2 separate regions of the Homo sapiens genome follow, and region 1 is linked to region 2. Evidence: fine-mapped expression QTL. A gene starts in region 2. The other region holds a variant in brackets. All regions are shown on one strand. Distances are between the middles of the regions. Region 1 overlaps ZAN (zonadhesin). Region 2 holds the start of EPHB4 (EPH receptor B4).

Region 1 (5,366 bases), 78 kb after region 2:
GTTTCTTCAGTGGGGAGAGTGGGTTTTTCCATGGGGATGCTGGGTTTTTCTGTGGAGATGGTGGTCTCCTCAGTGGGGGTGGTGGGCTCTTCTGTGGAGATGGTGGGTTTTTCTGTGGGAATGGTGGGTTTTTCTGTGGGGATGGTGGGTTTTTCTGTGGGGATGGTGAGTTTTTCTGGGGAGATGGTGGGTTTTTCTGTGGGGGTGGTGGGTTTTTCTGGGGAGATGGTGGGTTTTTCTGTGGGGATGGTGGGTTTTTCTGTGGGGGTGGTGGGTTTTTCTGGGGAGATGGTGGATTTTTCTGTGGGGATGGTGGGTTTTTCTGTGGGGATGGTGGGTTTTTCTGGGGAGATGGTGGGTTTTTCTGTGGAGATGATAGTCTCTTCCATGGAGATGGTGGGTTTTTCCGTGGGGATGCTGGGTTTTTCTGTAGGGATGCTGGGTTTTTCTGTAGGGATGACAGGCTCTTCCATGGAGGTGGTGGTCTCCTCAGTGGGGGTGGTGGGCTCTTCTGTGGGGACGGTGGGTTTTTCTGTGGAAATGGTGGGTTTTTCTGAGGGAATGGTGGGTTTTTCTGAGGGAATGGTGGGTTTTTCTGTGAGGATGGTGGGTTTTTCTGAGGGAATGGTGGGTTTTTCTGAGGGCATGTTGGGTTTTTCTGAAGGAATGGTGGGTTTTTCTGTGGAGATGGTGGGTTTTTCTGTGGGAATGGTGGGCTTTTCTTTGGGGACTGTGGGCTTTTCTGTGGTGACACTGGGTTTTTCTATGGAAACTGTAGGTTTCTTGGTGGAGATTGTAGGGTTTTCTGTGAGGCCAGTGGTTTCAGAAGGGCCAGTGGAAGAAACTGGAGATACGGGAGGAAGCTCTGGTAGCACTTTTACTGCAAAGAAAAATAAGAATCCCTGGAGTTTAGTCAAAACCATACCACCACCCTCTTTACTGCCATCTAACTGGAGTGGGCTCCCATGGGTGGCTTATTCACACCTCTCTTTCTACTCCCAAACCCCAACCTTCATCCACTCAACGAACACTAATATATGTCAGATATTATGCCAGAAATGAATAGGATATGGGTCCAGCCTTCAAGACTGCAGAGGAAGGAGTTCTGGATCCAGCCCCCAAAATCCATGGTATCGAAGCCACATTCACCCAGGCAAACATCTTGAAGTGCAGGGGAAGGAGAGGTGTGTTGAAGATGGAAAACAAAGCCAGCTGGGTGAGAATTCGGGCTCCAGGGAGGACTCACATTTTAAGCAGTTCATAGAGAGAACTCCAGGGAACCTCAGGGCACCGCCCCCTTCCTGGAGCCTGGGCTTTGGTCTTACCTGGACAAGTCCCAGGATTGATCAAGATGAAACCCATAGCAACCACAGAGGCCGTGTTGCTTCCCTGGATGCCCTTGAAAATAAGCTAAAGGCGACAAGGGAGAGAGACGGAGAGAGAAACAAAAATGAATCTCCAGCAACTCTGTGATTCCACTGGGCATAGAATCTGTTCTCTGCCAAAATGTCGCCTTGTTCCAGCCTCAACAGTCCAGCCCCATCCCGGCCCCTTTCTCACTTTCTGTAACACGAAGTTCCCCTTTTCTCGGCTCTCTTTCCAGCTTTCCACCTCTTCAGCACTGGTGGCGCCCCCAGATCCCAGGCATTGGCCCTCTCACCTCACACAGACAGGACCCCCGCCTCCGTCTCTCACCTGCATGGGCTGTTGGTGTCCTGAGGGGACGGTGACGGAGGTGTTCTGCCAGTAAGGGCGCTGAGACCCCACGCGTTTCCAGAGAGGAATCGGGGGACTCCCCGCAGGACTTCCCAGGAGGAGTTCGAGCATAGTACCCTCCCCAAGGCCATACATGTGGTATGCGAACTCCACGCAGATGTCACCTGGGGCGCAGAAGGGCCGGCTCACCAGTCTGACTGACTGGCCTGCCTGGGAGAACTCGTCAGCCTCAAGGTAGATATAGTGACCCCCTAGGCAAAGGAAGGGAACAGGCAAGGTAAGAAGCCTGCACAGGACATGCCAACTGCTGCTTTAGCAAAGCTTTGCTTTCTGAACGGGAATCTGAGCAAACACTCAAATTTCCCAGGTCGTAGCATTATTTTTTCTGCTCATTTTAGACATCTAACTAAAGAAGGTGGGATCACAAAGAAAGGGAAAAGCGGCCAGGCACGGTGGCTCATGCCTGTAATCCCAGCACTTTGGGAGGCCGAGGCTGGCGGATCACGAGGTCAAGAGATCAAGGCCATCCTGGCCAACATGGTGAAACCCCGTCTCCACTAAAAATACAAAAATTAGCTGGGCGTGGTGGCCCGTGCCTGGAGTCCCAGCTACTCGGGAGTCTGAGGCAGGAGAATTGCTTGAACTCCGGAGGTGGAGGTTGCAGTGAGCCAAGATCACGTCACTGCACTCCAGCCTGGCAACAGAGCAAGACTCCATCTCAAAAAAGAAAAAAAGGGAATAACAAACCAGCAACCTAGATTACATTCATTAATGTCGTGTGTGTGTGTGTGTGTGTGTGTGTGTGTGTGTGTGTGTTGTTTTTTTGAGATGGAGTCTCGCTCTGTTGCCCAGGCTGGAGTGCAGTGACACGATCTCAGCTCACTACAACCTCCACCTCCCAGGTTCAAGCGATTGTCCTGCCTCAGCCTCCCAAGTAGCTGGGATTACAGGTGTGTACCACCATGTCTGGCTAATTTTTGTGTTTTTAGTAGAGGTGGGGTTTCACCATGTTGGCCAGGCTAGTCTTGAACTTTCGGCCTCAAGTGATC[C/T]ACCCGTCTCAGCCTCCCAAAGCATTGGGATTACAGGTGTGAGCCACTGCACCCCACCCTCATTATTGTCTTTTTAAAAAATTATTTCTTTATATATATATATGTGTGTGTGTGTATATATATATGTGTGTATATATATGTGTGTGTGTGTATATATATATATATATATATATATTTTTTTTTTTTTGAGACGGAGTCTCACTCTGTCACCCAGGCTGGAGTACAATGGCGTGATCTCGGCTCACTGCAAGCTCTGCCTCCCGGGCTCACGCCATTCTCCTGCCTCAGCCTCCCGAGTAGCTGGGACTACAGGCGCCCACCACCATGCCTGGCTAATTTTTTGTGTTTTTAGTAGGGACGGGGTTTCACCGTGTTAGCCAGGATGGTCTCGATCTCCTGACCTTGTGATCCGCCCTCCTTGGCCTCCCAAAGTGCTGGGATTACAGGTGTGAGCCACTGCGCCCAGCCTCTTTTTATATATTTTTAAGACAGAATCTTACTCTGTTGCCCCGGATGGAGTGCAGTGGTGCGATCTCAGCTCACTGCAGTCTCCACCTCCTGGGGTCAGGCAGTTCTCCTGCCTCAGCCTCCTGAGTAGCTGGGACTACAGGTGCACGCCACCACTCCCGGCTAATTTTTACATTTTTTTTAGTGGAGTCAGGGTTTCACTATGTTGCCCAGCTGGTCTCGAACTCCTGACCTCAAGTGATCCACCTGCCTCGGCCTCCCAAAGTGCTGGAATTAAAGGCGTGAGCCACCATGCCTGGCCTATTTTTTTATTTTTAATTTTTAGAGACAAGGTCTTGCTCTGTTGCCCAGGCTGGAGTGCACTGGTTCAATCATAGCTCACTGCAGCCTTGACTTCTGAGCTGAAGCGATCCTCCCACATCAGCCTCGCAAGTAGGTGGGACCACAAGCACACACCACCACATCTAGCTAATTAAAAAAAAATTTTTTTTTCTAGAGATGGGGTTCTCACTATGTTGCCCAGGCTGAGCTCAGACTCCTGGGCTCAAGCAATCTTCCCGTCTCGGCCTCTCAAAGTGCTGGAATTGCAGGCATGAGCCACTCATAAACGTCTAGACTGAAAATGAGGTGGTGGGTTTTGAAGCTTTGGGCTCCATGAAGTGAGATGCCTGGGTTTTCTCAGGATTTCAGTGACCCCCCAGCCCTGAGAATCTTTAAGTTACTCTGCTATCTCCACAATTCCAGTACCATGGAAACTTCCGAAAAAACACCTGTGGACTGATCTTCCCACTGCCTGAAACAACGTCTCCCATCAGTCACAGCAGCCAGCCTGCTACCTGGGAGCAGACTGAGTGATTTCTTGGCGTGAGCGCTCCTCAATCTCCTCACCTGCATTAGGGAAACCTCCCGCAGGGCCCATGCCATGGACGGGTCCATTTTTATGTCCGAGGGCCCAGTGTCCACCATCCCCGGAAGTCTGGACCCAGTCACAGAAGGGATGGGCGTTGTCTTCAAAGTCACACTGAGGAAAACCCTCTGGGGGATCAAAATAGGATATTTGAGCAAGTTGAGTGACGCTCTCCAGCCCTCCCCCAGCCCACCCCGGATTCTGAGAGATCCGGGCCTCTCAGGGCCTGCTCTCACCCCCACAAGGAGCAATGCTGGTTGCATCAACTGCCACAGCTGGCTCTGGGGTCTTTCCAAAAACGCCTACCACGGCAAACTGGAGAGAAAGGGAGATGGAGCAGGAGTGAGCACACAGCCCACACCCCCAAGCCCCTGATCTAACTCGACTCCATTCCAGGACCCAGAATCCCTACTCCCTGTGCCCAGACCCTCAATTCAGTTCTTTCTTTCTTTTTTTTTTTTTTTCAGAGTCTTGCTCTATTGCCCAGGCTGGAGTACAGTGGTGTGATCATAGCTCACTGCAGCCTTGACCTCCAGGGCTCAAGTGATCCTCCCACCTCAGGCTCCCTAGTAGCTGGGACTACAGGCACACATCACTGTGCCCGCCTAATTTTTGTATTTTTTTGTAGAGATGGGGTCTTTCTATGTTGCCCAGGCTGGTCTTGAACTCCTGTCCTGAAGCGATCCTCCCTCCTCAGCCTCCCAAAGTATTGGGAATACAGGCATGAGCCACAGCACCAGGCCCCTCAATTTATTTCAACATTGGGTGTGCCTACCATGTGCAAGGACCTGACCCCTTGCTTCTCTGTACCTGTATCCGTCCCACGGCTGTGTAATTGACAGAAACAGCCTGCCAGTTGGGCCCAGGTTGTCCTGAGAAGAGAGTGTGTTTCCGGATACTCCCTGCAGTGAAAGGAATTGGAAGGAGAAGTGAGCTTAAGGGGACTGGGAAACGACTTTGAACTATACCTAGGAGGATGAGGAGCAGAGGGCATAGCTGGGGACGATTACCACCAAATGAAAGCACAATCTTCTTTTTTATTTTATTTATTCATTATTTTTTTTTGAGATGGAGTATTGCTCTGTTGCCCAGGCTGGAGTGCAGTGGCACTATCTTGGCTCACTGCAACTTCTGTCTCCCAGGTTCAAGCGATTCTCCTGCCTCAGCCTCTTGAGTAGCTGAGATTACAGGCGTGTGCCACCACACCTGGCTAATTTTTGTATTTT
Region 2 (5,314 bases):
TTTCAGTAGAGAAGGGGTTTCACTATGTTGGCCAGGCTGGTCTCGAACTCCTGACCTCAGGTGATCCGCCTGCCTCGGCCTCCCAAAGTGCTGGGATTACAGGTGTGAGCCACTGCGCCCAGCCTATTTATTTATTTACTTATTTATTTACTTTATATATTTTTTGGAGACAGAGTGTGGCTCTGTTGCCCAGGCTGGAGTGCAGTGGTGCAATCTCTGCTCACTGCAACTTCTGCCTCCCGGGTTCAAGCGATTCTCGTGCCTCAGCCTCCCTAGTAGCTGGGACTACAGGTGTGTGCCATGATGCCCAGCTGATTTTTGTATTTTTAGTAGAGAGGGGTTTCACCATGTTGGCTAGGCTGGTCTCGAACTCTTGGGCTCAAGTGATCCACCCGCCTCGGCCTCCCAAAATGCTGAGATTACAGACCTGAGCTACTGTCCCCAGCCAGAAGACATAACTTTTAGAGGCTACAGGATCTGGGTACAGAGTGAGAGTGGCAAAAGGCAGGGCAGGGGTTTGGGAGAGGGTTGCAGAGAACCCCGAGGGAGAAGCTGAATAAGAGAAGGGGAGACTGGGCCTGCATCGGGGAGGGAGGAGGGAATTCCCAGCTCCAGCCTGGTCTGCCTGGCTCCAGTGAAGCCGGCTGTTTCCTGCCCTCGGTGACCGGCCCACCCCCCCCAACCCGGGCGCAGGACCCAGGCAGAACAGCAAGGAAGGGCAGGGGTGTGGGGAACACCTCTTGCAGCAGGAAGATAAGTAAGCCGGGACAAGAGGTTATCACAGGCCCGGCTGTCCTTTCTGGGACGTAAGGGCGCTTGGCAGCCCCCCAAGCATCCTGGACTCCAACGTCTCTCTTGCTGGGCTCCAACGTCTCTCTTGCTGGGCTCCTCAAGATTCTGTCCTCCGGCTGGGCGCGGTGGCTAACGTCTGTAATCCCAGCACTTTGGGAGGCCAAGGTGGGTGGATCACTTTAGGTCAGGAGTTCGAGACCAGCCTGGCCAACATGGCGAAACCCTGTCTCTACTAAAAATACGAAAACTAGCCGGGGTTGGTGCCCTGTGCCTGTAATCCCAGCTACTCGGGAGGCTGAGGCAGGAGAATCGCTTGAACCTGGGAGGCGGAGGTTGCAGTGAGCCCAGATCACGCCACTGCACTCCAGCCTGGGAAATAGAGGGAGACTCTGTCTCAAAAAAAAAAAAAAAATCTGTCCCCGCTAATTACTGTGGGAGTCTAAGTCCTTTCCTTCTGCCCCTTGGAGGGGCTGACTCCTGGAGCAGCACCCCCTCCAATCCATCTATCCAGTAACCCATACTGTTAAGTTCCCTGAAGTAGAAGGGGGTTGGTGGGAGGAGCACGGCTGTGCTGGACCCTCCCCGCTAACTGATGGGAGGGTGAGGGGAGTTGGCAGTGAGAGGAAGGGCCCCTCCCAGCCATCCCGAGGGCCCCCAGGAGCCAGACAGGAAACAGCTCAGGAAAGACAGCAGCCGCAGCCGCAGCCCCAGCCTCAGGGGTCATGGCTGCGGGCGGCGGGGAAGCCCCCCCAAAACACGAGAGTGAGAGTGAGAAGGGCGATTTGGAGATCTAGCCGGACCCCTCACCCTCTCGGACACACCCACCTTTTTTTTTTTTTTTTTTTTTTTTGAGATTTCGTCTCACTCTGTAGCCCAGGCTGGAGTGCAGTGGCGCGATCTCAGCTCCCAGCTCACTGCAACCTCCGCCTCCTAGGTCCCGGTTCAAGCAATTCTCCTGCCTCAGCCTCCCGAGTAGCTAGGATTACAGGCGCGCGCCACCATGCCCAGCTAATTTTTGTATTTTTAGTAGAGACGGGGTTTCATCATGTTGGCCAGGCTGGTCTTGAACTCCTGACCTCAAATGATCCGCCTGCCTCTGCCTCCCAAAATGCTGGGACTACAGGCGTGAGCCACCGCGCCCGCCACACCCACCTTTTCTTTACCGTTGTTTCCTCGATTTTTCTCTACTCCCTAGCGCAGCTTAGTGCGCGCCTCCTCTGGACATTTTTCAGGGCTTGGTTGCGCGCACAGTAGGTCCCCAACACTGAATGTTTATGGGGTGACTGTGTGAACGTTCGCTGCAAGGCTATCCAAACTGGGATTGCTCCTTGAGGCCCCCTGGGCGGCCGTCAATTCTCCAAAGCTTCTACTCCCTTTTCCTTCCTTTTCCCCCAAAACGCAGTCCCTGCGCCCACTAGAGGGTGGTGGGCGCATCCAAGAGCGGCATCTAGAGTCCGCAGCAAGGTCAGAGCGGGCTTTGTGTGCGCGGTGAACATTTACGTGCACGCCTGGGCGGCCCTCCGTGTTGCTGCTGGGTGTGTGTTTTCTCTGCTCCCTGGTGCCAGCCGGGTTCGGGCCTGTCCCGGGGGTCCCTGGGCCCCAGCCCCGACATGCTCGGTCCTGGACAGCGCGCACCGCCACGGCGCACATCTGGGCGGTCCCGGGGTTCCTCACCCGCCGCCCCTCCCCCTTCTCCAAACTTTCTCTCAACTTCCCGACCTGCTCCACTCGGTGCCCCTCTCCGCTTCCCTCATGAATTATTCAGTAGCGTGAGCTCCAATCAGCGCGCCCGGGGCTCACTCGCGGAGCCCCCGCGTTGGGAGAGCTGCCCCCGCCCCCCGCGCGCCCCTCCCTCCCGGGCCCGGCGCCGCCCGGCCCAGTTCCAGCGCAGCTCAGCCCCTGCCCGGCCCGGCCCGCCCGGCTCCGCGCCGCAGTCTCCCTCCCTCCCGCTCCGTCCCCGCTCGGGCTCCCACCATCCCCGCCCGCGAGGAGAGCACTCGGCCCGGCGGCGCGAGCAGAGCCACTCCAGGGAGGGGGGGAGACCGCGAGCGGCCGGCTCAGCCCCCGCCACCCGGGGCGGGACCCCGAGGCCCCGGAGGGACCCCAACTCCAGCCACGTCTTGCTGCGCGCCCGCCCGGCGCGGCCACTGCCAGCACGCTCCGGGCCCGCCGCCCGCGCGCGCGGCACAGACGCGGGGCCACACTTGGCGCCGCCGCCCGGTGCCCCGCACGCTCGCATGGGCCCGCGCTGAGGGCCCCGACGAGGAGTCCCGCGCGGAGTATCGGCGTCCACCCGCCCAGGGAGAGTCAGACCTGGGGGGGCGAGGGCCCCCCAAACTCAGTTCGGATCCTACCCGAGTGAGGCGGCGCCATGGAGCTCCGGGTGCTGCTCTGCTGGGCTTCGTTGGCCGCAGCTTTGGAAGGTGAGTTTCCTTGCGGGGGGGGGCGCACCCCGTCACTCCTGGGACCTCCCCCCCAACATCTGGGCCTCGGAGTGGAGGGGCCGGCCTCTGACTACCCCTACCCGGGCACTGCAGTCCCAAACACTTCGGACCGATAGTGCTGGAACGGGAGGGGGGCGGGGAAGAGGCGCCCGACGGGTAGTGGAGTTTTCTTTTGTTTGGGAAAGAGATGGAGTCTGGCTACGACCCGGGACATTCCCCTGCCCGGGCTCCCCGAACTCTCACTGCTGATTACATACGCCCCTGGCTGCCTTTCCTTTCCTCCCTACCCCACTATTCAAAACTATCTGCAAAGTTTCTGTCCCAGTCCCACCTCCCGCCGTACATGAGGGAAGGTTTCTGGAGAAGCAACAGCAGACAAGGCACAACTTTTCGTGCTAGGCCCTAAAACGACCCCCAGCGCCAATTCCTTAGCGATCACACCTTGATCCTCCAGTTCCACACTCCTGCAACAGGATGGCCTCCTTTGCATTCACACAGCAAACCCCCAAACCGCTCTCCCGCCCACTGCTCCTGCCCCTGGTATAGGGTGGCTCCTTGGTTTCTACAGGCTGCACCCCATCCCTTTAAATGCGGTCTAGACCCCGGCCCCAGGTGAGTCCCGGGCTTCCCTTGAGACCTAGGAGCGGGTAGAAACTGACCTACACAGCCCCCAGGTAGAAACTGACCTACACAGCCCCCACATCGCCCTAACTAACCCAGTCTATCTCCCACCTCCTGGTCTCTCCAAGCATTTCTTTGGCCATGGATCGCTGTCCCTCCTGGTCCCCTAAAGGGGGAGCCAAGAGCCCTAGAAACTCTCCTGTGTCCCTAATGTCCTTTCAGTGAGCTGCCAACACCCCCCTTTCTCTGTCTGGTATGAAAGTGGTTATGGGGCGGTAGGCTATGAGGGACTCCCAAAGGGAAGGATTCAGCGGCGTTAGAAAAACCCTCTCCCCCTGGCTGGGCAGGACTGCCCTGGGCTGGGGATCAAAGGCTAGGTGTGGGGTTGGGAGTGAGGGGAGGCTTGCCCAGCTCAGAGAACGGAGAAGGGGGAACAAAAACCATGAACGAGGGGAAGAGGAAGGCCAAAGGGGTGGAAAAACCACGAGGACGAGGTGTGGTGAGAAGGAAAGACGCAAAGAGGAAATGGTGATTGTGACACCTATTACCTGAGTGTTTCCAAGCACCAGGCCTGTGCTGAGCGCCTTACAAATATTAATTTCACCCATCCAGCAACGCTAAGGGTGGTGCTATTATTGCCCCCATTTTTCAGATGAGGAGGCTGGGGCTTAGTTAAGGTTAAGTAGTTTATCCAAGGCCCTGTGCCGCGAGGAACAGCGAGAAGTGGAGGCCGAAAGCGAAGGAGAGATAGTGACTGTCAGAAAGAGAAACGGAGGTGGACAGAGAGTGGAGGAGAGATAGGTGAGAGACATGCGAACTGACAGATCAAAGCGTGGCTGCAGCTGAGCTGGGACGCAGAAAGGGAGCCTGCGCTTGCTCTGGGCTGCGGACAGCCCGAGGCAGAGACAGTGTGTAAATTGGAGACAGGAAAACACTATCCCGGCTGGAACAATGGAGGGTGGAGACGGCAGCCTCTATCCACCCCCTTCCCAGAACCCGGGCATCCTGTCCCCAGTGAGCAGGGCTGTCTCTTGCCACCCATGGGGACCTTGCGCCTCTCACCTCAGGCTGGCTGGCTTCCCATCTGACCCCTAGCTGGAGGACATCATTTGGTCCCCAGGAAGAGGCTGCCTCACCCACCCTCTTTCTCTTCTCTCCTGCAGCTCCCATGGGGTGGGAGCCAGGTGTTCTGGCTCCCCTCTCCACCCTTCCCAGCGCCCAATGCCCCCCACATTGCCGGCCCCCGAGGGGATTCCTGTACCCTCCCTCCTCCACTCTCCACTGCCAGGGGCTGTGCAGTTTTTCCTAATCCCCCCCCTTCCTCCAGTGCCTGTCCCCTCCCCCGATGATCCGAGCCAAGCCAGGTGTGTTCACCCCTCCCATTCATACCGCCCCCCAGAATCTCCTCCCCTCTGCCTTCCCATAACCAAATCCAGATGTGAGGCCTCGGCGGGAGC

What was found. PIP is the estimated chance that this variant, and not a neighbour inherited with it, causes the effect.
Region 1: its variant is fine-mapped to the expression of EPHB4 in whole blood (TOPMed, PIP 0.92).

Annotation. Positions count from the first base shown.
Region 1 is chr7:100,747,226-100,752,591 of GRCh38, reverse strand. It overlaps ZAN (zonadhesin), which reads right to left. Exons shown (of 48, transcript NM_003386.3): 9 at 4,951-5,042; 10 at 4,377-4,455; 11 at 4,122-4,268; 12 at 1,696-1,967; 13 at 1,326-1,410; 14 at 1-880. Among named protein-coding and RNA genes, the nearest start is that of ZAN, 16 kb to the right of the region's middle. The variant C/T (reference allele first, on the strand shown) is at 2,766.
Region 2 is chr7:100,824,880-100,830,193 of GRCh38, reverse strand. EPHB4 (EPH receptor B4) reads left to right here and starts at 2,671. Exons shown (of 17, transcript NM_004444.5): 1 at 2,671-3,215. The coding sequence starts at 3,164. It also overlaps a transcript of SLC12A9 not described here. RefSeq lists enhancers at 280-1,075, 1,872-2,667.